Linked DNA regions of Homo sapiens. The protein of the gene in region 1 purifies or fractionates together with the protein of each later gene. This does not show direct contact. Each region holds a gene or a part of one and is shown on either strand. Other genes may lie near its edges. The genes, in order: CDC40, ISY1-RAB43, CEP170, ISY1, SRPK3, ESS2 and ODF2.

What was found.
Region 2: the proteins of CDC40 (region 1) and ISY1-RAB43 fractionate together in Homo sapiens (co-fractionation; one large-scale study listed by BioGRID). This does not show direct contact.
Region 3: the proteins of CDC40 (region 1) and CEP170 purify together in Homo sapiens (co-immunoprecipitation; one large-scale study listed by IntAct). This does not show direct contact.
Region 4: the proteins of CDC40 (region 1) and ISY1 purify together in Homo sapiens (affinity purification with mass spectrometry; 2 studies listed by BioGRID, with this or other methods). This does not show direct contact.
Region 5: the proteins of CDC40 (region 1) and SRPK3 fractionate together in Homo sapiens (co-fractionation; one large-scale study listed by BioGRID). This does not show direct contact.
Region 6: the proteins of CDC40 (region 1) and ESS2 purify together in Homo sapiens (co-immunoprecipitation; one large-scale study listed by IntAct). This does not show direct contact.
Region 7: the proteins of CDC40 (region 1) and ODF2 purify together in Homo sapiens (co-immunoprecipitation; one large-scale study listed by IntAct). This does not show direct contact.

Annotation. Positions count from the first base shown.
Region 1 is NC_000006.12:110,225,236-110,229,157, forward strand, and holds part of CDC40 (pre-mRNA-processing factor 17), read left to right. Parts: intron 1-931; coding exon 932-1,008; intron 1,009-3,596; coding exon 3,597-3,741; intron 3,742-3,922. UniProt on the Homo sapiens protein: Required for pre-mRNA splicing as component of the activated spliceosome. Plays an important role in embryonic brain development; this function does not require proline isomerization.
Region 2 is NC_000003.12:129,133,448-129,137,369, reverse strand, and holds part of ISY1-RAB43 (ISY1-RAB43 protein), read left to right. Parts: intron 1-173; coding exon of another isoform or gene 174-239; intron 240-2,415; coding exon 2,416-2,538; intron 2,539-3,174; coding exon 3,175-3,296; intron 3,297-3,922. Other genes in the region: pre-mRNA-splicing factor ISY1 homolog, read left to right, coding at 174-239, 2,416-2,538, 3,175-3,296. UniProt on the Homo sapiens protein: Component of the spliceosome C complex required for the selective processing of microRNAs during embryonic stem cell differentiation. Required for the biogenesis of all miRNAs from the pri-miR-17-92 primary transcript except miR-92a.
Region 3 is NC_000001.11:243,192,607-243,196,528, forward strand, and holds part of CEP170 (centrosomal protein of 170 kDa), read right to left. Parts: intron 1-3,922.
Region 4 is NC_000003.12:129,150,938-129,154,859, forward strand, and holds part of ISY1 (pre-mRNA-splicing factor ISY1 homolog), read right to left. Parts: intron 1-3,922. UniProt on the Homo sapiens protein: Component of the spliceosome C complex required for the selective processing of microRNAs during embryonic stem cell differentiation. Required for the biogenesis of all miRNAs from the pri-miR-17-92 primary transcript except miR-92a.
Region 5 is NC_000023.11:153,779,119-153,783,840, reverse strand, and holds the start of SRPK3 (SRSF protein kinase 3), read right to left. Parts: upstream 2,801-4,722; 5' UTR 2,755-2,800; coding exon 2,696-2,754; exon of another isoform or gene 2,626-2,695; coding exon 2,495-2,625; exon of another isoform or gene 2,337-2,494; coding exon 2,228-2,336; exon of another isoform or gene 2,099-2,227; coding exon 2,011-2,098; exon of another isoform or gene 1,721-2,010; coding exon 1,633-1,720; exon of another isoform or gene 1,070-1,632; coding exon 963-1,069; exon of another isoform or gene 889-962; coding exon 723-888; exon of another isoform or gene 616-722; coding exon 590-615; exon of another isoform or gene 90-589; coding exon 1-89. UniProt on the Homo sapiens protein: Serine/arginine-rich protein-specific kinase which specifically phosphorylates its substrates at serine residues located in regions rich in arginine/serine dipeptides, known as RS domains.
Region 6 is NC_000022.11:19,137,893-19,141,814, reverse strand, and holds part of ESS2 (splicing factor ESS-2 homolog), read left to right. Parts: intron 1-1,787; coding exon of another isoform or gene 1,788-1,790; coding exon 1,791-1,960; intron 1,961-2,085; coding exon 2,086-2,203; intron 2,204-2,522; coding exon 2,523-2,656; intron 2,657-3,335; coding exon of another isoform or gene 3,336-3,395; exon of another isoform or gene 3,396-3,497; coding exon 3,498-3,600; intron 3,601-3,922. UniProt on the Homo sapiens protein: May be involved in pre-mRNA splicing.
Region 7 is NC_000009.12:128,497,506-128,501,427, reverse strand, and holds the end of ODF2 (outer dense fiber protein 2), read right to left. Parts: intron 3,016-3,922; coding exon 2,853-3,015; intron 2,428-2,852; coding exon 2,302-2,427; intron 1,362-2,301; coding exon 1,173-1,361; 3' UTR 136-1,172; downstream 1-135. UniProt on the Homo sapiens protein: Seems to be a major component of sperm tail outer dense fibers (ODF).

The DNA.
Region 1 (3,922 bases):
ATTGAAATTGCTGCTGTATAATCTGTGTTATTCATCAGATTACAAAAAAAATATTTCTGGTCTCATGAAAAGCAACAAGACGAAAACTCCTTTCAGAAAAGAATTTTTAGCATGGAGAATATTAAAAATGAAAAGGCACTTAGAACTTTTGATGGTTCTAAATTTAGGTGGCTACTTTTTAATTTTTTTTTCATTCTTTCATCACTCACATGAGGTTTTTTTTTTTTTTTTATGTTTTTTCTCCTTCACCAAACACATTTGAAATGCTTTACATGTAAACTGAAGATAGTCCAGGTACCAAGCATTTATTTATCATCATTTATCATCATTTCTGGATGGGCTAGATCAGCTCACAGATCCCTACAGCTTTGCCTGCCATCCACCTGCATTGCTGCAGGCTGTTTAACACTCTCACCTCCTCAAGTTAAGGTAGGCTAGCCAGTAAATAACACTTCCCCATAGGCTTACCTCAGACATCTTGCTTCACCCTACCATGGTACATTTTTAATTTAATTTTTGGTTTTATTTCAACAGCTTTTGGAGTAAAAGTGGGTTTTGGTTACATGGATGAATTATATAGTGGTGAATTCTGAGATTTTAGTGTATCCATCACCATGGTACATTATTAAAGAACTTTCTTTCAGTAACAGATTTTTTAACATAAAGGCCAAAGTTTAAATGAAATAGAAAACAAAATCACCACCACTGTTATAATGATCATGGAAAGTGATTTATGAAGTACAGGATTTACCATAAGCAGTACAGTGTCATCTTGTGATTTTTCTTCTTCCAGAAAGTTTCATGAAAGATTTATTAAATATATAATATCAAGAGTTTGCTTTTATTTGCATATTATTCCTTTGTTCCAGAGATAATTCTGAAGGTACTTTTTAAAAGTTGCTTATTCTGATATGCTATTTAAAATTTTTAGGGATATCCCTGTGGATTTCAAGTACATAGCAGAACCCAGTATGCACTCAATGCCTGCAGTGACTTTGTCTCCAAATGGTGAGTTAGTATGTAGATTGTATTTTTAAATGAGCTTCTAAGATACAGTGTGATTTCTTTATTCAAAAGAACTTTGGCCCCTTCCTTCTTGGGGAAGTTTGTCACTGTGCCATTATTTGTATAAGGTAATCTTTACAATATTAGAAAGAATTACTGGTTTTCATATGCAAGTCACCTCACCTACTTTTCTGTGTCTCTTTTTAAATAAAAATAAAAGAAACAATGATTTACAGCTAACATTGATTGAACATCAGATTTTTATTTAACAATCAGTTTTCTTTTCTTTTTTCTTTTCCCCTCCTCTCCCCTCCTCTCCTCTCCCCTCCCCTCTTTTCTTTTCTTTTCTTCTTTTCGAGACAGGGTCTCCCTTTGTTGCCCAGGCTAGTCTCAAACTCCTGGGCTCAAGTGATCTTCCCTCCTCAGCCTCCCAAGGTGCTGGGATTACAGGCCTAAGCCACTATGCCCGGCCAGAGTTTTCTTTTCTAATTCTCCTTCCAAACAGAATCACGTTCAGTAAATCATTTAATAATGATTTGGCCAAGGCAGAAGAATCACTTGAACCCAAGAGTTTGAGACTAGCCTGGGCAACATAGAGAGACCTCATCTCTACAAAATAAAATTTTAAAAATCAGCTGGCATGGTGGTGCACATTTGTAGCCCTAGCTACTTGGTCAGGCTGAGATGGGCAGTTTGGTTGAGCCAGGAGATTGACTATGATCATGTGACTGTACTCCAGCCTGGGCAACAGAGCAAGACCCTTCTCTCTAAAAAAAAAAATAGTAATAGTGATTTACTGTAAACTCTTTCAGGGGATAGGAAGTTTTGGTCTGATTCTCCATAATGAGAGAACACTTTAGCAATTCACTATAAAAGATTTTCTCAGGCAAAAATTAAGAAGATAAATCTATTTAATATTGTTTAATCCATTGTCTTTTACGTACAAGATAATTTGTGCTACAGATATACTGACAATATACTGATGTAATTATAGCTTTACATGAGAGTCTTAAAGTGGGAGTTCTGATGTTTGGGGGACCTTGTCATTGAAACCACTGTCAATTCACATAATTAACTCCAAGTGTAGGGCAAGGAAGAATTTGCTGTTCCATCAGGGCCTCTGACACAAGCAAATGGTAATAGTTGTCAAATGCTCTATCATTTTTATGAGAAGAGAAACCTAACTGAACCTTTTTTTGATCATTGCTAGATTATATACTTCGTCACTGTGCATCTATATTTCATGTAGCGTATTTTTAAACCACCTATTACAGATTTTGTGCCCATCTTGAACAAGGCCATTTACCCACTCAGGCATTATTTAAGTCTGTTTCCTTAGTAAGTAATGTTTACATGTACAGTTGGCCCTTTGTATCCATGAGCACCATATCCTGGGATTCAACCAGCACGAATCCAGAATATTCAACAAAATAAACAATAAAAAATAACAATACAACAATTAAAAACAACACAGCATAACAACTAGGTACAAAGCATTTACGTTGCATTAGGCATTATAAGTAATCGAGAGGTGATTTAATGTATACAGGAGATATGTAGGTTATATGCAAATACTATGCCATTTTATATAAGGGACTTGAGCATCTGTGAATTTTGGTATTGGGTAGGGGTGCAGATCCTGGAACCAATTCCCAACAGATACCAAGGGATGACTATATATAGGATGCAAGTATAGTCATGCATTCCTAACAACAAGGGTACTTCTGAGAAATGCAGTGTTAGGTGATTTTGTCATTTTGTGAACATCACACAGAGTACTTACACAAACCTAGATGGTATAGTCTACTTACCCTAGGCTGTATGGTATAGCCTGTTGCTCCTAGGCTTTACCCCTGTATGGCATGTTGCTGTTCTGAATAATGTAGTCAGTGGTAAGCATTTGTGTATCTAAACATAGAAAAGGTACAGTAAAATCTCAGCATAGAAAAGGTACAGTTAAAATTTAGCACTATAATCTTATGGGACCACTGTCATACGTGCGGTCCATCATTGACCAAAACATTGTTAAGTGGTGCATGACTATAGACGCTGCAGTTTAGGCTCTAGGGGCTTTGATGAATCCTAAGTAGAGAAAAGCATTGTAGCCTTTTAAAAAGTTACTATAATTTTTAATATATCTTTTTTTGTATAGTTTTATTTAATAACCCTAGGCTTTCTCACCCCTTAATCTTTCTTTATTCTGTAATTACCACAGATAAGTCTCTTTCTCCTATTTCCCATAGTTCTGTTGTCTATACTTACTATAAATTAATTTCATTTCACAACTTTTAGCTTATTTCTTTAACATTAAGCTTGGAATTTCTATATTTCCTTATTTTTTTAAAAACTTTTATATGAGAGTGCTCAATGATATAGGATCGTATATGCAAAAGCCATTAGTTTATATATTAATACCTCTTGCCAGTGACATATTTATAACATTTTACAGGTGGTATAGTAAATTTATTTTTTAGTATTATAAAGTATTTGGGAGCAAAACTTATATTAATCACAGTGAACATATTTAAAATAAAAAGTTTTAAAAATTGTTTTAGTCTTCCTCTAAAATACCTCATTTATTGAATTTACAGGAAAATGGCTAGCATGCCAATCAATGGACAACCAAATCTTAATTTTTGGAGCACAGAACAGATTTAGATTAAATAAGAAAAAAATTTTTAAGGGCCATATGGTAGCAGGCTATGCTTGTCAGGTGGACTTTTCACCAGACATGAGGTAAGTTTAAATCTTCTAATCCATTCTCGTATTCAAATATGATTATATAAACTGTTGTTGTACAAATAACACTTGACACATCACTCTCACATAATATGTTTTTATGAGAACTCGATGATCTGTCAAAATTGTCAAAATGCTGGATATAAAGGCAAGAACAAATTAGGAAAATTACATTTTG
Region 2 (3,922 bases), on another chromosome or scaffold:
AGAAAGAAAATGCATAAGTGAATTTTACTGGTTATAATTCAAATAGCACAGATAGAGTTAAAGTCCTCTTACCTCTACACTCATCCCAGTGCCCCTCCTAGAGGTAACTGATAACCATTATTATCTGTTTGGTATGTTCCTTTCCGGCCTTAAAAATTTTTTTATTTTTTTAGGCCAGGTGCGGTGGCTCATGCCTGTAATCCCAGCACTTTGGGAGGCTGAGGCGGGCGGATCACAAGGTCAGGAGATCAAGACCATCCTGGCTAACATGGTGAAACCCCGTCTCTGCTAAAAAAAAATACAAAAAATTAGCTGGGCATGGTGGCGGGCACCTGTAATCCCAGCTACTTGGGAGGCTGAGGCAGGAGAATGGCGTGAACCCAGGAGGCGGAGCTTGCAGTGAACTGAGATCGCGCCATTGCACTCCAGCCTGGGCAACAGAGTGAGGCTCTGTCTAAAAAAATAAAATTAAAAAATAAAAAATAAAAAAAAAAAGAAGAAGAAAATACAAAATTAGCTGGGCATGGTGGCAGGTGCCTATAATCCCAGCTACTCGGGAGACTAAGGCAGGAGAATGGCGTGAACCCAGGAGGCGGAGCTTGCAGTGAGCTGAGATCACGCCATTGCACTCCAGCCTGGGTGACAGAGCGAGGCTCTGTCTTTAAAAAAAAAAAAAAAGAAGAAGAAGAAAATACAAAATTAGCCGGGCGTGGTGGTGCGTGCCTGTAATTCCAGCTACTCAGGAGGCTGAGGCAGGAGAATTGCTTGAACCCAGGAGGCGGAGGTTGTGGTGAGCTGAGATTGCGCCATTGCACTCCAGCCTGAGCAACAAGAGCGAGACTCCGTCCCACAAAAAAAAGAAAAAAACATGCTGGGATTACAGGCATGAGTCACTGCACCTGGCCAGCTTTTATTCTTTCACCAATCTGGTTGGTTGTCATTTTGTTTTTCATTTTTAATAATTACTTAGCCGGGTGCAGTGGCTCACACCTATAATCTTAGCACTTTGGGAAGCCTAAGCGGGTGGATCACCTGAGGTCAGGAGTTCGAGACTTGCCTGGCCAACATGGTGAAACCCCATCTCTACTAAAAATACAAAAATTAGCTGGGTGTGGTGGCGGGTGCTTGTAATCCCAGCTACTCGGGAGGCTGAGGCAGGAGAATCGCTTGAACCCGGGATGCAGAGGTTGCAGTGAGCCAAGATCATGCCATTGCACTCCAGCCTGGACAAGAGCGAAATTCCATCTCAAAAAAAAAAAAGAATTACTTAAATATTCTGGATTGTAGTCCTAGTCTGAAAATATCTTCTTTAGGGCTTTCTCATGTATCTTTTTTGTTTGTTTCTAGCTTCTTTTGTCTTTTTTATTTACTTATGTTTCCTGTCATGCTTTTTCATTAAACATTATGACAGTTCCTGTGTTATTAAAATACTTTGTGAAATAGCATTACAGGGGCTGCAGGATATCCCATCCCATACATATTCTGCAATTTACAATCATAGGTTATTCCCAAGTTTTCTCTATTATATAAATAATACTGTGATGCATATTTCTGTACATGAAGCTTTTTGCTATCTCGTGTTTGGTTTTTGTTTTTTTTTTTTTGAGATGGAGTCTCGCTCTGTCGCCCAGGCTGCAGTGCAGTGGTGCAGTCTTCGCTCACTGCAACCTCTGTCCCCTGGGTTCAAGCGATTCTCCTGCCTCAGCCTCAGGAGTAGCTGGGATTACAGGGGCCCCCACCACCATGCCTGGCTAATTTTTGTATTTTTAGTAGAGATGGGGTTTCACCATATTGGCCACGCTGGTCTTGAACTGCTGACCTCGTGATTCTCCCGCCTCGGCCTCCCAAAGTGCTGGGATTACAGGCATGAGTCACCGCACCCGGCCTGGTTTTGTTTTTTACTTAGGTAGATTGCTTTTAAACGGACAAATGGGTCCAAGTACTGATTTTAAAAAGGGCTCTACCACTTAAATAATTCCATGAATAGTATAGAAAAGTGTCTATCCATGGTATTTTCTTTTTCTGTGTGATGGAGTCTTGTTTTGTCGCCCAGGCTGGAGTGCAGTGGCGTGATCTCGGCTCACTGCAAACTCTGCCTCCTAGGTTCAAGCGATTCTCCTGCCACAGCCTGAGTAGCTGGGATTACAGGTGCGCACCACCACGCCCGGCTAATTTTTGTATTTTTAGTAGAGACGAGGTTTCACCATGTTGGTCAGGCTGGTCTCGAACTCCTGACCTTGTGAGCCACCTGTCTGGGCCTCCCAAAGCGCTAGGATTACAAGCATGAGCCACTGCGCCCACCTGGTATTTTCATGAACATACGTGCCACGTGTGTGTATAGCGTTGCATCAGGAGACAGCTTCGCTGGAGTGTGATTATGACTTGGAAACTCAGCTCCATTTCTGTTTCTTATAGCTCTTCCTCCTCCCAGAAAGACACGTGCTGAGCTCATGAAGGCAATCGATTTTGAGTACTATGGTTACCTAGATGAAGATGATGGTGTTATTGTGCCTTTGGAACAGGAATATGAAAAGAAACGTAGGTCTCTGGGCATTTTATTTCATAATAGATGGCATCTGTTTTCTGTTGTGTCCTTTGAAAACAGGATTTTCAATAGTGCTTTATGCCAGAAGGGAGTTTTCTTTGTTGCTAATGATCTTCAGGCGTGATGGTCTGCTAATTCCCTGACCCCTGTGAGGCAGTCAAAGCTGTGTGGGCCAGAGGTAACAGGTTGGGGAAGCCATGAGAGCCACGTCTGACCGGTCCCTGTCTGCTAGGAGGTCACCATGTGGATTCGTGCTAATACCAGTGCCCATGTGACACATCAGGCCAGGACTTTGGAAGCAAGTGGTCTGGAGCTGGAGCTGCTTTCTAGCATGCTCTGCCCCTGCCTTCTCTCTTTTCATGTGGACATGTTGGGAATCCACTCAGGTTGTGGAAGTGGGGAGGATTTGGGAATGTTCCCTAAAAAGCTGCTTTGTAGTGACTGAAGGCCAGAGCTGTTGTAGGACTACCATGCTTCACATCCATTTCCACCCACGGGGGCAGAATGAAGGGTGTCCCTTTCTAGAGGGGATGTCTAGACTTTCCCTGCATAGTGTTGGCCTTTCCCTGCATAGTGTTGAAAGCTCATTTAGAGACAAATAAATAGCACCTACCCTCTCTTGTGTTCAGTCAGAGCCGAGTTAGTGGAAAAGTGGAAAGCAGAGAGAGAGGCTCGGCTGGCAAGAGGAGAAAAGGAAGAGGAGGAGGAAGAGGAGGAAGAGATCAACATCTATGCAGTCACCGAGGAGGAGGTATTGGGGTTGGCCCCCTCTGGCACTCACTGCCATCTGTTCCAAGCCATGAAGTGTGGCAGGGAGGAAACTTGGCTCCCAAATACAGAGTCAGGGTTCACAGCCCAGCTTGCTCACCTGCAGGATGGCTGTGAAAACACTTGCGAGATTACAGGAGGGTTTCAGGAGGCAGCAGCCATGAGAGTGCCCTGCCGGCCGTGCTTTACACCAGGGCTTCCTTCTTTCCTTCTTAAAGACAGGCCCTTCTGCATACACTAGAATTAGACTGATAAACACAGAGGAAGCCATGAGCTTTAGCCCATGACCTCATCACTTCTGTTCACGTGTCAGTGGCAGTTGCTCTTCTGTAGTCTAACACCCCCATCTTTTTTATTTTTTTTGAAACGGAATCTGGCTCTGTTGCCCAGGCTGGAGTGCAGTGGCACAATCTTGGCTCACTGCAACCTCTGCCTTCCGGGTTCAAGCAATTCTTCTGCCTCAACCTCCCAAGTAGCTGGGACTACAGGCGAGTGCCACCACGCATGGCTAATTTTTGTATTTTTAGTAGAGACGGGGTTTCACCATATTGGCCAGGCTGGTCTCGAACTCCTGACCTTGTGATCCACCTGCCTTGGCCTCCCAAAGTG
Region 3 (3,922 bases), on another chromosome or scaffold:
ATTAGGAAAACAAGGCAATACAGGGAGACTAGGTTGTTTCCAAACATTTTCTAATTAAGTGAAGCGTTTGGTCTTTTGAAACATCTTTTCAAAAATTAAATTTTAGTGGGATCTGTCAGGTACTATAATTGGTTTCTTGACAGCAGTCTGAATATGAAATAATATAAAACCTGACTGCTTTTAGGTTACAGAAGAATGATATAGTAACATCTCTCTTTCATAATCAAATGTGTGGGATAGGGCACGGAAGACAACAAGCTCCATTTCCACAATAAATATAATAATAATAAATTGTCAAAAAAATCTAAACACAAGGCAAAGAGAACATATAATATGAAAGAATATATTGTAATTTTCACTGTGAAAAATTATCCCTTTTAAAATCTACTCAGCTTTCCTATCACTGAACATGAAAGAAAAGTATTGGAAAAACTCTACATTATCAGAGAAATAATCATACATTTATATGACATGACCTAAGTTTAAAAAAATGTTTGATTAAAGAGTTAATTTGTCTTTTTCTTAAAAATAAAATGTTCAGCTGGACTTGTGAGTGTTTACTCTGAAGTCATGTTAGTTAAAATTTCCATTAGAATAAAATGTATTAACTGCTTCTCATATATTAATAGTTCATTAATGTTATTTTTCTATTTTTTCAGACATTGATTTTTTTTTACTATGCACAATGTACTGTACTTGATCAAGTCCATACAGTACAACTGGTTCATAAACCTGTCCTCTCTCCCTCCCCCCATATAGATATATACATATAGTTTGTTTTTGCTTTGCTCATCCTTCAGGTGACAGAACAACGTCAAGATGGTAGTTTCTAATACCACTACACAGAGAGCCAAATAAAACTGATCCACTATACAGAGAGCTAAATAAAACTGATGTGGCTCAGCTATGAAGCAACACAAAAAAGCTGGCCAGGGATATAGCACTTATCAAGGTCACCTGTTTTGAAGGTCACCATTCCCATGTTAGTACTACTTCAAACTCGCATTCACTCAAAGCTAGAAACTTGAGACTTATACAAGTTAATAACTAATTCATCTAGAAATCAAGTACCTAACCAGGTCAAGTAGCACAATAGAGTGGAAAGGCAGCAGACTATGATCTGATGATCATAACCAGGCAGCCTGGTTTCATGCAAAGCCCAGACAAGATCTGAAATCAGATAAATCTTATCCCTAATCAGTCTGTAGTCCTCATTTTCCTCATCATAAAGTGAGAAAACAGTATCTTCCCATAAGATTGTTGTGAAGATTTAGTGAGATGAGTATTAAGTGAGATCATGTAAGTTACCCAGAACAAAGCAGGTACACAAATAAATGCTTCTCCCTCCACCTTCAAAAACAGCTGAGAATCAGGAAGACAAAAAGCTAATACCAAAACCCAACTCTAAAAAACCCAAGACAGATATGACAATGCCTATCCTTGAATATTCATAAACATTACTAACAGTTAAGATCTTCACCGAGAGGTTTTTACTATTTACTCAGATCACATGTAGCAAACCTTGGGCAGGGTACAAAAGTGAGGATTAAGGACAGACAAATTGCACCAAGTGGTAGAGACAAGATGAAAAACAAGAGCAGACAAATGGCCCCAAAAACATGATAGTCCAGTACCATTCAGTATATAGGGCAAACAGTCTTATATACTACAGTCTCCTGAGGACATTACTGTAAGGCAGTATCAGTATTATTATATTACTAATATATTTGATTATTGATTATATCAATATTGCTATTGCTATTGATATATATAATAGTAATACTGATATTGATGATTGATGATTTTGAGTCATAAGAAAAAGTTTTAAATTATACTGAAACTTCTCTGCTTAAGAAGGTGGTAATATGGGTAATTAATTTAATAGAAACTTAGGAAATGGTTAAACTTCAAAAAAACTATCAACTGTAAAAGTAAAGTTCAATCATCTGGAAAATTCATTATGTGGAAGGATTCATTTCCCTAAAGATGATAAAAACAGATGAAGTGTGGTCCAACTACACTTGAGAAGTACCTAATAGAAAACTATAAGGGGTCTTCTAATCAACACAGAAAAATAAAACACCTTTCCTCCCTCAGAACACTAACAGAACATATTCTGGAATTTAGAAATTTAACATTCATCTATCTTCAAAACTCATTTTGTTATACCAAATGAAACTAAATAATAGAGTAAATACTTGTTTAGACTAATATTATATTATTAATCTCAATTACTAGATTTTAAAAAATTATTTAATGATTGATTATGCCATAATTAATTCCATATATCTCAATCAGAAAAGCAATTGGTGATAATCTGCTTATGTTCTTAAGGTATTTTATGACTGTGTTACCTTAACACAATATGTTATAAGGGATACTTATACTTCATCCAGAATAAATGTTCTTTTCATTCTTCTGTACTAAATTCAATGAAATATTAAACTTATTTGAGATGACAAGGACTATAATTATAACAGCTCATTCTGCTTAAGACATCCATCTAACCTAGTCTGTTCAAGCATGTCAAATTAAGAAGACTGGGAAGCTCCTTTTGCTTAAAAGGAGCTACGACTTGAAAATTTCCAAATTTAGTTTCGCTGGATTAAAAATCAACATGAGAGAGCCAAAAATCTATGATTCCCAGTTGCACATGCCATTTCAAAATGTGTGCAACAGTTAAAGGCCTTTAATTATAACCTAAATTAATTGTTGAGACCAAGTTAGGAGGTAGAAAAGCATAGCTGTAAATAAATTGAGGACAAACTTTACGTCTTAATACGATTAAAAATAGTCACACAATTTCTGGAGAACGAAATTGCTCTAAAGTAAGTATTTGCTTAAACCAGGGCTTTTTAAGCTATATGGCAAGTCTTCGGGAGTTTCTGGATATATATGAACCCACAGAGAGGAACGTTAAAAATTACTAGGTAGCAAACACTCTATTATCCTTTCTGGAATGCAACTCTAAAAATTAATAACGAAGAAGCAAATCACTTTTTGCTTTCACTAAGAGTATGCTACAGGATAAATTATTAAACTAATCACGTATATTCCACAATTTGAAACTTAAAAAAAAAGTTTAAGTTTTTAAAAATACCTTAATTTCAAAATGACCACATTAAAGAACACTTGATATACATTTCAAATCTGATTCTACAATTTCTGCTGGCTTCATAAATTATTACAAGACAGTAAACTATTTTCCTCATCCTATATTTTAAAAAGCTGCAAATGATAAATCTGAAACAGTAATATCCTCATACTAACATAAGAAAGCAAGTGAGAGTCTCTTAAGGCTATTACTAATCAGCTGTATCTGACAGGGCACTTTAAGGAATTTGACACAAGACATAAATCACTGAATTATTACTCAAAAAGAACCCCAAGATCATGAGACGGCTTTTGGTCATCTAGCAGAAAGAGTACACAAGCTGAGAATTCAGTTACATTCATATAGATGAAAGTATTGCTGGATGCTTCACATTTGAAATTTATTTTATTATGCTGAGCTAGGAGGGATCAATTTTTATGGCTATTTGATTTTGGAGTATTTGTTTAAATCTTTGTACCCTATGAAGTATATCCTTTTAGAGTGATTGTGTTTACAAGAGTAATGATGGCTGAAATATTAAAACTTCTTATGGTTAAGAGCGTGGACTCAGGAGTCAGGCAATCTAAGTTCAAATCCCAGCTCCATTATTTGTAGTTGGGTGACTTTGACAAGTAAATTAATTTCAGTATGCCTCAGTTTCTTTATCTACAAAATCACCGTAACTGTACCTTTAGGTATTGCTGTGATGATTAAATAAATGCATACAAAGCACTCAGAAGAATGTTGGATAAAGTAAACCCTACTGAAGTGTTAGCTATTACTGTAAATCATGGTTGTGCCTTCTGTACAAAAATTACATATACACTT
Region 4 (3,922 bases), on another chromosome or scaffold:
AACATGGTGAAACTCTGTCTCTACTAAAAATACAAAAATCAGCCAGGTGTGGTGGTGGATGCCTGTAGTCCCAGCTACTCGAGAGGCTGAGGCAGAATAGCTTGAACCTGGGAGGCAGAGGTTGCAGTGAGCCGAGACTGGGCCACTGCACTCCAGCGTGGGTGACAGAGGAAGACTCTGTCTCAAAAAAAAATATATATATATATAAATATATAAAATATATAAATATATAAAAATATATATAAATATATAAAAATATATATATGAATATATATGGGGTGTGTGTGTATATATATAATTCTGTATATTGAACTTCTTTTCTGTGATCTTGATAAATTCACTTATCCATTTTAGAAGTCTTTCTGTAGGTTCCTTGGGATTTTCTACATAGAAAATTATGTAGGATTTTAGGTGGGCATGGTGGCTCATGCCTGTAATCCCAGTACTTTGGGAGGCAGAGGCGGGTGGATCACCTGAGGTTGGGAGTTCGAGACCAGGCTGGCCAACATGGCGAAACTCTGTCTCTAGTAAAAATACAAAAATTGGCCGGGCATGGTGGCACATGCCTGTAGTCCCAGCTACTCAGGAGGCTGAGGCAGGAGAATCGCTTGAACCCAGGGGACAGAGGTTGCAGTGAGCCGAGACTGCACCACTGTACTTCAGCCTGGGTGACAGAGCGAGACTCCATCTCAAAAAAAAGAAAATTATATAGGATTTTCTATGTTACAATAAAGACAGTTTTACTTATTATTTTCTAATCTTTATGCCTTTTATTTCCTTTTTTTACTTTACCGCACTGGCTAGGATTTCCAGCATCACGCTGAATATAGTGGTGAGAGTGGATGTCTTTGCCTCGTTCCTGATCTTAAGAGGAAAGCATTCAATCCTTCACCATTAAATAGTTTATTGGCTATGGGTTTCTTATAAGTACTTTATCAGGGCCGGGTGTGGTGGCTCATGCCTGTAATCCCAGCTCTTAGGGAGGCCAAGGTGGGTGGATCACCTGAGGTTGGGAATTCGAGACCAGCCTTGCCAACATGGTAAAACCCTGTCTCTACTGAAAATACAAAAATTAGCTAGGCGTGGTGGCTGGCACCTGTAATCCCAGCTACTCGGGAGGCTGAGGCAGGAGAATCACTTGAACCTGAGAGGCGGAGGTTGCATTGAGCTGAAATTGCACCACTGCACTCCAGCATGGGTGACAAGAGCAAAACTCCGTCTCAGAAAAAAAAAAGAAGTGCTTTATCAGGGTAAAAAGTTCCCTTTTATTCCCAGTTTGCTGAGTTCTTATCATGAATAAACGTCTAATTTTGTCAAATACTTTTTCTGCATCTACTTAGATCATACAGTTTTTCTTCTTTGGAATGACACAGTGAATTAACTTATTTTTGAATGCTGAATCTACTATGTTTTTCCAGAATAAATCCTCCTTAGTTGTGATGTATTATCCTTTTTATACATTGCTAGGTTTTGTTTTTTTTTTTGAGACGGAGTCTCGCTCTGTCGCCCAGGCTGGAGTGCAGTGGTGCAATCTCGGCTCACTGCAAGCTCCGCCTCCCGGGTTCCAGCGATTCGCCTGCCTCAGCCTCCCAGGAAGCTGGGACTACAGGCACCTGCCACCACGCCCGGCTAATTTTTTTGTATTTTTAGTAGAGACGGGGTTTCACCGTGTGTTAGCCAGGATGGTTTCGATCTCCTGATCTCACGATCCACCCACCTTGGCCTCCCAAAGTGCTGGAATTACAGGCGTGAGCCACCGCGCCCGGCCATACATTGCTAGGTTTGATATGCTAATGTTTCATTAAAGATTTTTGTCTATATTCATAGGAAATATTGTCAGTAGTTATTTCTCATAATATCTTTTTCTGATTTTAGCATCAGGGTAATGCTGATACTAAAATTCACAAAATGAGTTACAAAGTGTTCCCTCTTCTTCCATTTTCTTGAGGAAACTATGTGGAGTTGGTATTATTTCTTCCTTAAATATTTAGTAGAACTGACCAGTGAAGCCATCTGGGTCTGGAATTTTCTTTTAGAAAGGTATTTAGAAATGAATTCAATTTCTTTCCATCTTTTTTTTTTTTTTTTTTGAGATGGACTGTCGCTCTGTCACCCAGGCTGGAGTGCAGTGGCCCAATCTTGGCTCACTGCAACCTCTGCCTCCTGGGTTAAAGTGATTCTCCTGCCTCAGCCTCCCAAGTAGCTAGGATTACACGCATGCGTCACCATGCCTGGCTAATTTTTGTATTTTTCATAGAGACAGGGTTTCACCATGTTGGCCAGCCTGGTCTTGAACTCCTAACCTCAGGTGATCCACCCACCTCCACTTCCCAAAGTGCTGCAGTTACAGGCGTGAGCCACGGTGCACAGCCCCAATTTCTTTAACAGATATAGGACTACTCAGGTTTACCATTTCTTTTTGAACTGTGTCTCTAAACAGTAGAATTATTGACACTGTAGTTTATTTAGGATAATTATTTGTAGGAGGCTTAGCACATCCCTGGCCTCTACCCACTATGTGCCAGTAGCACCCTTCCAGTTGTAACAATCAAAAATTTCTTCAGGGCTGGGCGCAGTGGCTCAAGCCTGTAATCCCAGCACTACGGGAGGGTGAGGTGGGCAGGTCATGAGGTCAGGAGATCGAGACCATCCTGGCTAACATGGTGAAACCCCGTCTCTACTAAAAATACAAAAAAAAATTAGCTGGGCATGGTGGTGGGCGCCTGTAGGCCCAGCTACTCAGGAGGCTGAGGCAGGAGATTCGCTTGAACCCGGGAGGCAGAGGCTGCGGTGAGCCAAGATCATGCCACTGCACTCCAGTGTGGGCAACAGAGCAAGACTCTGTCTCAAAACAAAACAAAACAAAACAAAATGAACTATTTCTCGGCCAGGCACTGTGGCTTACACCTGTAATCCTAGCACTTTGGAAGGCCGAGGAGGGTGGATCCCCTGAGGTCAGGAATTGAAGACCAGCCTGTTCAACATGGTGAAACCCTGTCTCTACTAAAAAATTACAAAAATTTGGCTGGGCGCCATGGCTCACGCCTGTAATCCCAGCACTTTGGGAGGCCGAGGCGGGCGGATCACGAGGTCAGGAGATCGAGACCATCCTGGCTAACACGGTGAAACCCCATCTCTACTAAAAATACAAAAGATCAGCCAGGCGAGGGGGTGGGCGCCTGTAGTCCCAGCTACGCGGGAGGCTGAGGCAGGAGAATGGCGTGAACCCCGGGGGGCGGAGCCTGCAGTGAGCTGAGATGGCGCCACTGCACTCCAGCCTGGGTGACAGAGCGAGACTCTGTCTCAAAAAAAAAAAAAAAAAAAAAAATTAGCCAGGTATGATGGAGGGTGCCTGTAATCCCAGCTACTCGGGAGGCTGAGGCAGGAGAAATTGCTTGAACCCAGGGAGGTGAACCCAGGGAGAAATTGCTTGAACCCAGTGCAGTGAGCCGAGAACTCGCCACTGCACTCTAGCCTGGGTGACAGAGCAAGACTCCATCTCAAAAAAAAAAAAAAAAAAAAAAAAGGACCACTTCTCTTAAGTGAGCTTTGGCAGTTTGTGTCTTGTAAGGAATTGACCTATTTCATCTAAGTTGTCAAATTTATGGGCATAACATTGTCTGTAATATTTCCTTATTATCCTTTTAATGTATATAGATTCTATAGTAATATTCCCAATTTGGTTCCTAATATTCTTAATTTGTGTATATTTTTTCTTGGTCAGTCTGACTAGAAGTTTATCAATTTTATTGATCTTTTTTTTTTTTTTGAGACAGAGTCTCGCTCTGTCTCCCAGGCTGGAGTGCAGTGGCGCGATCTCAGCTCACTGCAAGCTCCACCTCTTGGGTTCATGCCATTCTCCTGCCTCAGCCTCCCAAGTAGCTGGGATTACAGGCGCCTGCCACCACATCCAGCTAATTTT
Region 5 (4,722 bases), on another chromosome or scaffold:
TCCCGCAGCCGCTCCTCCAGCAGCCGCTTCTGCTGTTTCCGTTTGCGCCTCATCTTCTTCCTCTTGTTTTTGGACAGCTTACCGGTCTGCTGTCAGAGCCAGGGTCACCCCAGGGTTCCTGTCGCCCGCCCCAGTCAGCATGAAGTGGAGGTTTCCCTGCACAGCCGCCAGGGAAGAGGCCTCTCCGGGCCCCAGGGCTCCCATGGACACCAGAATGTGGCGCCAGCGCCCCTTGGCACCAGCTACTCACTACTCTCCCTGCCTCCCCGCCTGTGGCCCCACTCCCCACAGCTCCATTAGGAGTGGGAAGACCTGGCCGGCCCGCCTCAGGGTGCTCTCTGTCCCCTCTCAGCCCAAGCTAAGGCAGGCGGAAGTGGCCATTCGGGGAAGACAGCATCCTTTCACCAAGAGCAGTTTGGGGCACTTGACCCCCCCCGGGAATTACCGTCAGCCCAGCCACCCAGCCTTTCGGGATTACCACCGTGGGAGTGCGTGAAGGTGGGGGGTGGAGCCACTGTGGCTCCAGAGATGGCCTCCAGTTGGCTCAGATGGGAGAGGAGGCATGGGAGAGAGGGGCCCCCCAACTTACCAAGACCTCCTGGGGGGCAGTGCTGACTGGGAGTGCAGGTGGGGAGCGGTGGGGGGGGACAGGGAGGAACAGAGACTCAGGCAGGGGTTCAGGCCCAGAGGCCCCGACCCAGCCCCATGTGGGCCCTTGGTACCTATGGAGCGGGAGGGGGGCGGCGCCCCTGCCTGTTGCCACTCCGTGGCCTCGGCAGCCAGGCGCCTGATGTAAGCGTCCCCCACACACAGCAAGATGTTCTCGGGCTTGATGTCCGTGTGGATGATCTTGCACTTGGTGTGGAGGTAGTCCAGGCCGTGCAGCACCTGCAGAGAGTCGCACCTGACCTCCTCCAACTCCCGCCCAGGCCAGGCTGGGCAGCCCAGTGGGTGGCACTCACCTGCCTCACGATGCTCTTCACGCAGGGCACGGGCAGGCCCTGGTAGTTGGACTTGATGATCCATTTGAGGAGCTGGTGGCCCAGCACCTCCAGCACCATGCACACATCTGGGCTGGGAGTGAAGGGCGGCCAGTGGACACCAGCTGCGGCACAGGCCCCACCCACCCTCAGCTAGGGGAGCAGCAAGGCTTGGGCCGTGTGGAGGTGGGGAGGCAGGGCCTCCCCTGGGCAGTCCTGGTCACCATTATGCTGGTGTCATCATCGATAGTGTCCCTGTCAGTCTCAACAGGTATGCCAGTTGGGATGGTGCATTTTGTGGTCATCCTAGAGGTGGCGCTGGAGGAGCAGGCACAGAGGCCTCTCGGGCCAGCCCACTCCCATGCTAGTTATGCCATAGGGCCTCTTGGCAGTCCCCCAAAGGGAAGGCAGTGCCACAGAGACAGCACCTGCCGTTTGGGGATAATAGCAACGTCCATGGACAATCAACGCTAGCTTGTTACTGCCTCCACGTAAACACAGTTACCTGGGGGCGGGGTCGTGCCAGAGGCTCCCGTTACTGGGAGGGATGCAAGCCCATTGTGCGGGTCTGCAGACAGGCTCTAGCAGCGAGGGCCCCCCCATTTGCCGGCCCTTGGCTGCCACACTGCTTTGCTCTTCCTGCAAAGGATACGGACTCCATTGACTCCTGAGATCCTGAAGTCATCAATGAGCTGGACAATGGTCTCTCTTTTGGGGTCACTGGGGTCGCTGTCCCGGACCTGGAGCAAAAGCCAAGGGGCCACAGATGGTTCCACCCTGCCCTGAAGCCCACAGCTCCCTTCAGTGTACCCTTCTCCTGCTCCAGCTGGGCCCTGCTGGAAGAAAGGCCGCCAACCCCTCCTGTCCCTCGCCTGTTCCTCCAGATCCTCCCCCTTGGGCACAGCCAGCTGGAGGCTGCCCCTCAGGGAGCCCCGCCCTGCCCCACAGAGCCCCGGCAGGCCTTGCACCCGCATTGCCAGGCCCCAGGCAGCTCCAGGGGAGCTGGGAGTGGGGTAGGGAGGTGCCTCACACATTTCAGGAGCTTGATCTCATCCACAGCTGTCTCCGTGTAATGCCCCGCACTCTTCACCACTTTGAGGGCCACAAAGCGCTTGCGCCTGCAATACCGAGACCCTTGTAGGCTGTGGCCCTGGCAGGACCCACGGCGGGGATCAGGGTGGCCCCAAGCAAGCCCAGGGACAGGATCCCAGCCAGTGCTGGGCCCCGGAGGCGAAGGAGGCACTCACTGGATGTCCCAGCAGAGCCAGACGGTGGAGAAGTGGCCCCAGCCCAGTTTGCGCACCACGTGGTACCGCCCATTGAACACGTCGCCGATCTTCACAGGGTGGTAGCCGCCTGCCCAGGGGAGATGTAGATTGGGGTGGAGGGGGTTCTCACTCCCCTGGGCCCCCGAACACCTCGGCCCCATTGACCATCTGGCCCATGTGGGCCCAGGACTGCCCTGGGTCCCTGCAGTGGCCGTGAGGCCGCATGTCCCCAAGGCCAAGTCTCACCCTTGCAGTAGTCTTTGGGGTCTTCCTGTTCCTCGTCGTCGGAGCCCAGAAGGCCCTGCAGCATCTGAGGCACCGGTGTGGCCAGGGCTAGTTCGGAGCCCGAGGACTCGGGCCCGCAGGAGGCCTGTGAGCTGCGGGTGGGGTGAGTGGCAGTGGGCATGAGAGACGCCAGGGGCTCCGGGTGCCCCAGCCGAGCCCTACCTGCTGCTACTGCCGCCGCTGCCGCCGCTGTCCCCACCACCGCCCGTGCTGGCGCTCATCCCGGCCACGCAGCCCGCAGCTCCGGTGCCCCGGGCGGCTGCTCCTGTGGGGCCCGGCCGCGGCCTGCGAATTTATAGCCTTGGCCGGCCGCTGATCTCACCCGCCTTTATAAATAGCCTCCCAGCTGCTCGGCTGTGGGCAAGGTATGCGGTGCGGGGAGGGGGCGGCGCGACGGCGGCCCCAGAGAGCCCGGCCCCCGGGCAGAGGCCCCCCTCCTGCTCCAGGCCCACCCTGGAGGCAGAGGGGGCTGCTGCTTGGGGACCAGGGGCAACTGGGCCCCCAGGCTGAGCCTCCGCACCCCAGCTGAGGGGGAGGTCCACGCGGGGGTGAAGCAGCCCGTACCCCAGGTCGGGCTCCCGTTCTCCGGTGCGGACTGTGGGGATGTGCTCCACTTGGCAACCTGGTCCTTAGGCCAAGCCCCCACCACCTGTGCCCCTGTGGGCATCCTCCTGGAGGTGCCCTTCTCATTCCCATGGGAACCCTGTCCCTGGCTGCTCCCAGCCACTTCCTGCTTCTTCTATGTTTCATCAGCCCCTAGGACAACTGGGAGTCCAGTGCCCTCTGAATGTGGCGTCACTGGGGACCCCTCATTTCCCCTACCAGAGGCAACAGGCCTGCTGAGGGGAGGCCTGGGAGCTTGCCAGCCCAGAACCTGCTCCTGCGACGCTGCCTGGCGCTCTGGCTCCCAGCGCCTGCTCTTCCTCTCCACCATTTGCAAGGTGCCTGTCGTGGGCTGCTCCATAGCCAGACATGAGGGAGGCAGCAGGAAGCTGCTCACTGCTGGGGACAAGCAAGCCCATAGCCACTTCCCCATGAGTGCGGTGGTGACTGAGGGGCCTGTGACCCAGGGGCTGCATCATGAGAGACCAGGAGAAATTGGGTCCCCAGAAGCATCCAGGGCAGCACAGGGCACAGTGGGGCAAGGCCTGCGGCCAAGACGCGTTCCAGCCCTTCACGTGCTGGCCACGGCTGCCGCATGGTTCGAGGGCGAGGACTAGAGGCCTGGTGTCTGTAGGCTTAATGTGGAGCTTGGGTGATATGGGGTTGGGGGGTGGTCACTGAGCTTCTGCTCAGCAAAAGATCACTCTGGCCACTTCAAGGACAAGGGAATGGAGAGGCGAGGGTGGAGCCGGGAGGCCAGCTGGGGCCTGACAGAGGAGTCCCAATGAAAGGGAGGGGGCTCGGCAGAGAGGGTGTTTGTCCCAAGATATTGGTGCAGTGTCCCTGTACCAGGGTCCGTGAACTGGTAGGGGTGGGCCAGGCATTGCTGGAGGGGCCAGCGAGGTCAGAGAGTGGGAGGGAAAGTGAAGCCCGGGTACCTGATGGCCTCTCTTTGTCTGTGGGTAGCAGGTTATAGGCATGGGGCTGAGGGACTCTCAGTCAGGAGAGCACTGAGTCAGCTCCTGCAGGGAACAGCAGGGGCTGGGGATTGGGCCCTTTGTCAAAAGACATTTCTGGCCAGGCGCGGTGGCTCATGCCTGTGATCCCAGCACTTTGGGAGGCTGAGGCGGGCAGATCACCTGAAGTCAGGAGTTTTGAGACCAGCCTGTCCGACATGGGGAAACCCTGTCTTTACTAAAAATACCAAAATTAGTCGGGTGTGGTGGCACACGCCTGTAGTCCCAGCTACTCGGGAGGCTGAGGCAGGAGAATTGCTTGAACTCCGGGAAAAAGAGGTTGCAGTGAGCCGAGATTGCGCCACTGCACTCCAGCCTGGGAGAGAGAGCGAGACTCCGTCTCAAAATAAAATAAAAAGACATATTTCTATTTTATTTCCGGATGTGATTTTCCAGCAGGCAAATAAATACAATGGGGAGAGGGGGAAGGAGGGGGATCCTTATAAATTAGAAACAATCTCAGGTGGGGGGAAGGTGGGTGGGCTGGCAGGGGAGGTGGCAGGCAGGGAGCCCACTGCTGGGCACAGTGCCTGGCTTTGCACCCTGTGCCCCCAGGCTCTGCCAGCTCCC
Region 6 (3,922 bases), on another chromosome or scaffold:
GGTTTTGCCATGTTGTCCCGGCTAGTCTTGAACTCCTGACCTCAGGTGATCTGTCTGCCTCGGCCCCCCAAAGTGCTGGTATTACAGGTGTGAGCCACCGCGCCTGGCCAAGACATAACGTTTTAAAGGCATTTCTGTTTATGGTCTCTTTCCCTAATTGGCATCCCTTGCACAAGAGCAGAAGCTTTGTTTTGCTTTCATCTGTATGCTCCGTGTTGGGAACAGCACATGTGGTGTTGTGGGCCTTGCACAGATACACATGGAACAGATGAAAGAGTTGTCATCTTCAGCATGTTTGCTGGGACACACAGCTCTATATGGTAACATCGTGACTTGATGGGGGAGTCGGTTTAGGAAAGGGCACTCCGAGTCCTGTTGAATGCAAGTGTTCTGCACGCCATGGGACTTCTGCGTTGTCAGGCCCTCTTTTCATCAGTAGTAGAATGTCAGTGCATGTATAGACAAACGAGACACTCTTTCTTATCAGTTTGTAGACTCCACTGTGCTGGAGTAGCACAGATGTGTTGTGTGTTTGCACAAACATGCAAACATGATACTTTTTGCTTTACAATCCAGCTTTTTCGGCCATTAACACAGTCCTTGTTGTCCTTGAAGCTTGATTATCTGTTGAAATGTAGCTTGTGCATCACAGGGCAATTTGTAGATTTTTTTCTTCTCCTTTTTTTTTTTTTTCCTATAGAGATGAGGTTTCATTATGTTGCCCAGGCTGGTTTTAAACTTCTGAGCTCAAGTGATCCTCCCACCTTGGCCTCCCGAAGTGCTAGGATTACAAGTGTGAGCCATCATGCCTAGCCAGTTTGCAGATTTTCAATACCTGTACACCTACATGCCAGTAAATATAGGAATCCTTTTCAGAACCTAAGTGGTAGGAACCATCATCATGTTTACAGGTGAGGAAACTGAGGCTCAGAAAGGCAGTCACTTCTGCAGGTCTCAGAGATGGTCAGGGTTTCACTTCTTATCTCTCTGAGATGAATAGAGTTTCTGACCCCTGTCCTCATCCCGTGGGTCTTGAGCTTGTAGCCACTGTGCCTTGTGCATAGCCTCACGTGTAGCAGGTGGTCAGGACTGTCACTAGACTTGAAGGCAGAGCTCTCCAGGTGGCCCCACCGAAGTTTGCACCACCACACGCAGCACCAGGGCACCACCTCAGTGGGAGTACCACTTTCCATGGTGGCAGGGTTGGTCGGAGGGGGGGGTGTTTGGGGTTGTGGCTTAGCACCTGTGAGGCCCCATCCAGAGGACTAAGTCATATGAGATCCCTGGAATTGGGGCTCGCTCTCAGGTCAGGATGATTAGGCGATGACCACCCACCTGTAGTACAGGTACCAGGAAGAGAAGAGTGGGTAAGGTAAGGAAATCCTAGGGAGTGAGGGAGAGCCCCAGGGATTTGGAGGCCTGGCACCCACAGGCCTGGCACCACTTTGGTGGGGGAGGAGCCTGCCTGTGATCACGAGCTCTTGCTCTAACACCTGTATTGCTTTCTCCAGTCTGAATCAGACCACGTAATTCCCTTGGCATCCAGCACATGAGCAGAGCTGGCCCTGAATCTGTAGGGTACCACCTGAGGGCTCTCTGGGCAGTCAGGGTGGGTGGATTCTGCCCCCGTGGGGAGTCCTTGGCAGTGTGGGCTTTCATGGGCAGAAGCCAGGACCAGGGGAGAGGATTCCAGCCCTGCATGTTGGGGGCTATGATTCCTGGGCCTGGGTGTCCTCCTCTTTCCTGACTGCAAAGGGTGCTGTGTTCCTCCTCCCGCAACCCCTAAGCAGGAGAGGCTGGAGAGGAGGAGGAGAAGGAGCCGCTGCCCAGCCTAGATGTCTTCCTGAGCCGCTACACGAGTGAGGACAATGCCTCCTTCCAGGAGATCATGGAGGTGGCCAAGGAGAGAAGCCGGGCACGCCACGCTTGGCTCTACCAGGCTGAGGAAGAGTTTGAGAAGGTGTCTCTGGGGTCTGGGGTGTCACATAGGCGTAGGCACCCTCTGTGGTGGTTGGGGAGCCCCAGGGCCATGGGTACAATGCCCAGGGGCATCTCTGACCATCACTTTTCCCCATGTGATTGCAGAGGCAGAAAGATAATCTCGAACTCCCGTCAGCAGAGCACCAGGCCATCGAGAGCAGCCAGGCCAGTGTGGAGACCTGGAAGTACAAGGCCAAGAATTCCCTCATGTACTATCCAGAGGGTAAGTGGCGGGCCTCGCAGCCAAATGGGGAGGTGTTGGGTAGAGCTGTGTGTGTCTGGCTGTGTTTGGAGCAGCCTTCCAGGTGTGTATGGCCGTGCCCCCTTGCAGTTTGGGCTTCTGATGGGTACTGGTCTGTCTAAGGGTGGACAGGTCTGTGTGAGGTCAGCAGTGAGTGAGACCCTCTCCAGCGGCACTGGGGCCTGCGTTCTGCTCAATGCTTTTGTTCATCTGGGAGTGACTTGGCCGAGAAGCGAGCTCCTCATGCTCCTTAGGCTGCTGCCCTTCTGACACCTGCTGCTACCTTTGCTTCGTCTGCCAGGTGTCCCTGACGAGGAGCAGCTGTTTAAGAAGCCCCGGCAGGTGGTACATAAGAACACGCGCTTCCTTAGGGACCCCTTCAGCCAAGCCCTGAGCAGGTGCCAGCTCCAGCAGGCAGCCGCCCTCAATGCCCAGGTGAGCAGGCGGGTCAGCAGGGCCGCATGGGCCAGGTTGGACAGGGCTGCCTGGGGGCAGGCATGATCTCTCCCATCTCTTTGAGCTTGGCAGAGCTCAGTGAGTGGAACCATCTGGGGCCCTGTGCGGCAGGATCCTGAGTCTTTCCTTGGCCCCAGTGGGCTTCCATTGAACACTGCCTTGGTCACACACGTTCTGTAGGTCCAGATCTGTGCCAGCTCCCTTGATGGCAGGGGCAGGAGAGAAAAGGGACTGCTGGGAGTGAGCCCAGGCTGGCAGCTGCACGCCCACACACCGGGCAGGGAAGCCAGAGAGCCGCAGAGGGAGCCCAGCCCCAGGGGGTGGCTGGGGTGGGACAGGCCCTGGGTTGGCAGAGAGCAGAGGCTTTCTGAGTCTGGGAGCAAGACGAGTAGATACTCTCTGATGGTGACTGTGGCAGTCACAGGGTTGAAGTGGGGAAGGCAGGAAGAGACTAGAGCATAAGCATTGCCTGTCATCAGCATTGCCTGTCATCAGCATTGCCCCCTGCAGGGGCCTGGCGTCAGCATCCTCTGGAGTTGCTGGGATAGGCGCAGCTCGAGTGGAGGCCCTGGCACCTCCCTGGATGGGAGGAGGGGGCTTTCCTTGCTTGGGTACCCACTTTGACAGGCCCTCAAGGTCTTTTGGGGGGTTGGGGCAGGGGCCCTCCCTCTCTTTCTCCAAGAAGGCTGCCAACCCCAGAGCCCCAGCCTTGCCCTGAGGAGAGGAAGTGTTTCCAGCATGTTCCCACGTGTTTGCCCACCGGCCAGCTGTCGAGCGTGGGCTGCGGTCCCCCTGATGCCAGCCTCTCTGCTTGTTCCAGCACAAACAGGGCAAGGTGGGCCCCGATGGCAAGGAGCTGATCCCCCAGGAGTCCCCTCGAGTGGGTGGATTTGGATTTGTTGCCACTCCTTCCCCTGCCCCTGGTGAGAAAAGTGCCCACTGGCAAGTGGGTCTACTGCTGGGACTCCCTGGGGGAGGTGGGCTTCTCAGTCGGCCCTGGCCACTCCTGGCCTCTACCTGGCCTGCCCCACACCTTGTGTAACTCAGGGACCTGGTCTCCTGTCTGTACAAGGCCCTAGAGGCCAGGTGTCCAGGCTGCTTGGGGCCGTGGGTGGGCTGGACTCTCAGGCAGACCTGGCCTGAGACATCCTGGGATGACGTGTCCTGTCCTGGTCCTTACTGTGATGTCAGTGGGTGGGGGTGTGTGCACAGTGCTTATGAGTCTAAGTCTACCTAGCACTGCAG
Region 7 (3,922 bases), on another chromosome or scaffold:
CTCCAGAAGAAAAAAGAACAGAGAAGAAATTCTCTAGAGTTGAGTCAGAGTGGCTGAGAGGTGAGAAGACTGGACCACCCAGGCCAATACTAGCTAGAATCAGAAGGGCAGAGGTTAGCACAGTACGAACAAAAATGGTGAACAAAAATGGCCCAGATTCTTATTCAGAAACCAATTCACATTTTAAAAATATATACTGTACACTACCCCATCCTCTTCCTAATAGCTAAAGTGATCTACCCTAAAACACCAAGCAATCCTTCTTACAGTTTGTTCCCTCCTGACAGTTCATTGATTACAATGTGAAAGCACCAACCTGAGCTAAAATGAAATGAGAAGCCTGATGTTTCAGGCACCAAGTACTTTAAAAATGTCTACTGGCTGTCCTGCAGCATTTTACTTAATCATTTTTTAGAGGAGGGATGAGGACTGGTTGGGTAAAGGAAATCATCAAATGGAGCCTTAAATAACTGATTACAAAAGCTTTTTGTAAAATCACACAAATATTTCAAGAATAAATGCATTCCAGAGATACAAATCAGGCCAAAAGAAACAAAAATCAATGAAATTGGCATTACACTTGTAAAAGGCCAAATGGACACAAGCCCTCGAGGGTCTATTGTGAAGTGCTTGGGGGCAAGTGGCCTCAAAGAAACTTGGGAGTGAGAGGTTTGCACTGAGCTTGGGAAGGGAGCCTTGGGAAAACACCACACTTGTGAAATCAGAAAAAAAAAAAAAGCAAGTGATGGTGCTTACAGCCCAGGACGACTTCCTGCTGGTTTAGGTCAGAAAAAACCTGAGAGAGATTCCTAAAACAATGAGGGCTGTAAGGGGACTGGTGGAAAAAATCCAGTGGAAATATTTTCTCAGGAAAGGAAGGAGCAAAGTCATGGTAAGTTAAAATGTGGTACCCTAATGTAGTAGTAAATTTAAGGCCTGTCGAGGAAATTTTAACACTTCCAACAGGTGACTATATCAGGAAGGAGAAAACCAAGTGCTTCCTGCTTCACCTTCTGCTGCTTTTGGGACTTTTCTAGAGCTAGTAGCTAAGGACAAGACCCTGAACCCATTTTTTCACTGGGAGAGGAAAACCACCAGGCTTCTCAGCTATGGCTTGGCAACTCTGGAGTTCCTATGGCTTCCATCAGGGCTCCAGGCCCTGATAAGTGGCCTCAGGCAGGAGGAGATCGGGAGCGGATGGGAGAGCTAGTCAGGAAGGTGGAATAGGGACCATCCCCAAACACGTTGGCGTATGATGATTTGAGGAACTGGACGTAGTTCTGCATGCTGCGGTTGGTGCTCTCGGACTGCTCCAGGCGATCTTTCAGGTCTTGCAGCCGGCTCTGGTAGCGGCGGTCCGCCTAACGAGGAGAAACAGAGCATGGGCCCGCTGTGCAGTGTCCAAAATAGAAATCCATAGAGACATAGGGACTTTCTTAGGAGTTGCCAGGAGGTTTGGGGAGGCGAGTGTGGAGTGACTTCTAATGGGTATGGGGTTTCTTTCTGAAAATATTCTAAGACCAGGCACAGTGGCTCATGCCTATAATCCCAACACTTCGGGAGGTCAGGACGGAATGATCACTGGAGCCTAGGAGTTCAAGACCAGCATGGGCAACATAGTGAGACTCTATCTCTACAAAAAATACAAAAATTAGCTGGGTGTGATGGTGTGCGCCTGTAGTCCTAGCTGCTCAGGAGGCTGGGGTGGGAGGACTACTTGACCCCAGGAGTTTGAAGCTGCAGTGAGCTATGACAGCACCACTGCACTGTAGCCTGGGTGACAGAATGAAACTCTGTCTAAAACAAAACAAAACAAAACAAAACAAAACGTGAGTCTGGGTGCAGTGGCTCACACCTGTAATCCCAGCACTTTGGGAGGCCATGATGGGCAGATCATTTGAGATCACGAGTTGAAGACCAGCCTGGCCAACATGGCGAAACCCCATCTCTACTAAAAATACACACAAAAAAGTAGCCAGGGATGGTGGCACATACTTGTAATCCCAGCTACTTGGGAGGCTGAGGGTGGGGTGGGGATCATATGAAACCAGGAGGCAGAGGTTGCAGTGAGCTGAGATCGTACCACTGCATTCCAGCCTGGGTGACACAGGGAGACTCCGTCTCTAAATAAATAAATAAATATCTACCCAGGATATCCTTAAGGGATAGAAAGTGATTGGAGAAAAATAAAACCATGTCATATTCACAAAAACAGTAACAACAAAACACCTTGGCCCACAGGCCCCACAGAAGCTAGGTCTGCTGCCCACTCTCCTAGCCCGGCCCACCAGCCTGACTCACATCATCACGGCTCCGCCGCAGCTGGCTCAATTCCGTTTTGGTTCTGCTCAGCTGGGTCTCAAGGTCCAGGATTTTGTTCTGGGCTGCTCGCTCCTTGGAGAGTGCGTGCTCCTTGGTTTGTTCCACCTGCACATTCAAAGGCCCAGACATGAGACTGGTTTACCGGACATGGGGAACACTTGGCAAAGAGAAGGCTGGGCCCACTATCTGGTCTTGCAGACAGCACTTGCACATCATTGTGGACTGTGTTCTCTAGAACGCTGGGGCAGGAACTAACTATGGGGACTATGCCTGCCACCCAGCTTTGCCAGTGCTCCAGGAGTCACCACCTAAGATGTGGTAAGCCTATGTGAGGCTCAAGAGGGTAGTGAGTAAATGAGCAATCATCAGATATCAAGTGCTGAGCCCTCTACGATGAAAATGTGATCCTTACAACTAATTCATGAAGCGGGTACTACTGTGTGCCCATTTTTCAGATGGAGAAATAAGCTGAGAGTTTAGGTGATTTGCCCAAGGTCACAGAGCTAGTCATTCATGAAATCGGGACTGACCTGCCTCCTCGCATCTTCAATGGCACTCTCCAACTGCCTTGCCAGGGTCCCACATTCCCGTGTTTTCTCCTCCAGCCGCAGCTGGGACTGGTGGATTGCCTCCTCCCTCTTGGCAATCACCTGTAGGAACTCGATATTCTGGGCACTGGTCGCCTCCAGTTTCCTAGGTGAAAGCACTCAATCAGATCCTGGGCATACCCCAACCTGTCATGTTCCACCCCGCCAGGGGGCTGCCAGCCTCTCCTGGACTGGGGATCTCATCATGCCAAGAATCTCCAAGGAGCCACAGGAATAAGCCAAAGAAATCTGCAGATCAGCAAGGCGACCAAAGAACTGTGCAGCTGGAGCAACTGGTTAGAGAACAGAGTGAAGGGTGGGAACGCAGAGACTGACCGTGGGCTTTGTTAAGTGTGGATAGCATCACATGGAACACAGCAACTTGCAGCTCAGAAAAATGGTACCATTATTATCCCCACTTCAGAAATGAAGAAACTGAGCCTCAGAGAGGGGAATTCATTGGCCTGAAGTCAGCACAGCTGGCAAGTCTGTAACCAAAACCTAAGCCTGCAACTTCTGCTGTTCACTGCTGCCTCCCACAGCAAAGGGACTTCAGCTACACCACTCAACATCTTGTGTGACCAGCCATAGGGCAAATATGGCCATCCCGATATACACACACTGTCCTCAGTGCACTTCCAGGATGCCTTCCAATTTAAGGAGCTCTGCAGGGCCTGGGGGATCTAGCTGCCATTTCCAAGGCTGGCAGGGCAGAGCAGAGGTGGAGCCTGGAAGGAGCCCACTTGGTTGTAGCCTCCTTGCAAGTGCACTGGCCACCTGAGGCACTTAGGGCCTCCTAGGATGTCAGGCACCTTCACCTCTGAAACTAAGGCTGGGACCAGGGCTGGAGGACTCTTGCCCACCTCTTTTTTTTTGAGATGGAGTCTTGCTCTTTCGCCCAGGCTGGAGTGCAGTGGTGCTATCTCGGCTCAATGCAAGCTCCGCCTCCCGGGTTCACGCCATTCTCCTGCCTCAGCCTTCCGAGTAGCTGGGACTACAGGCGCCCGCCACTG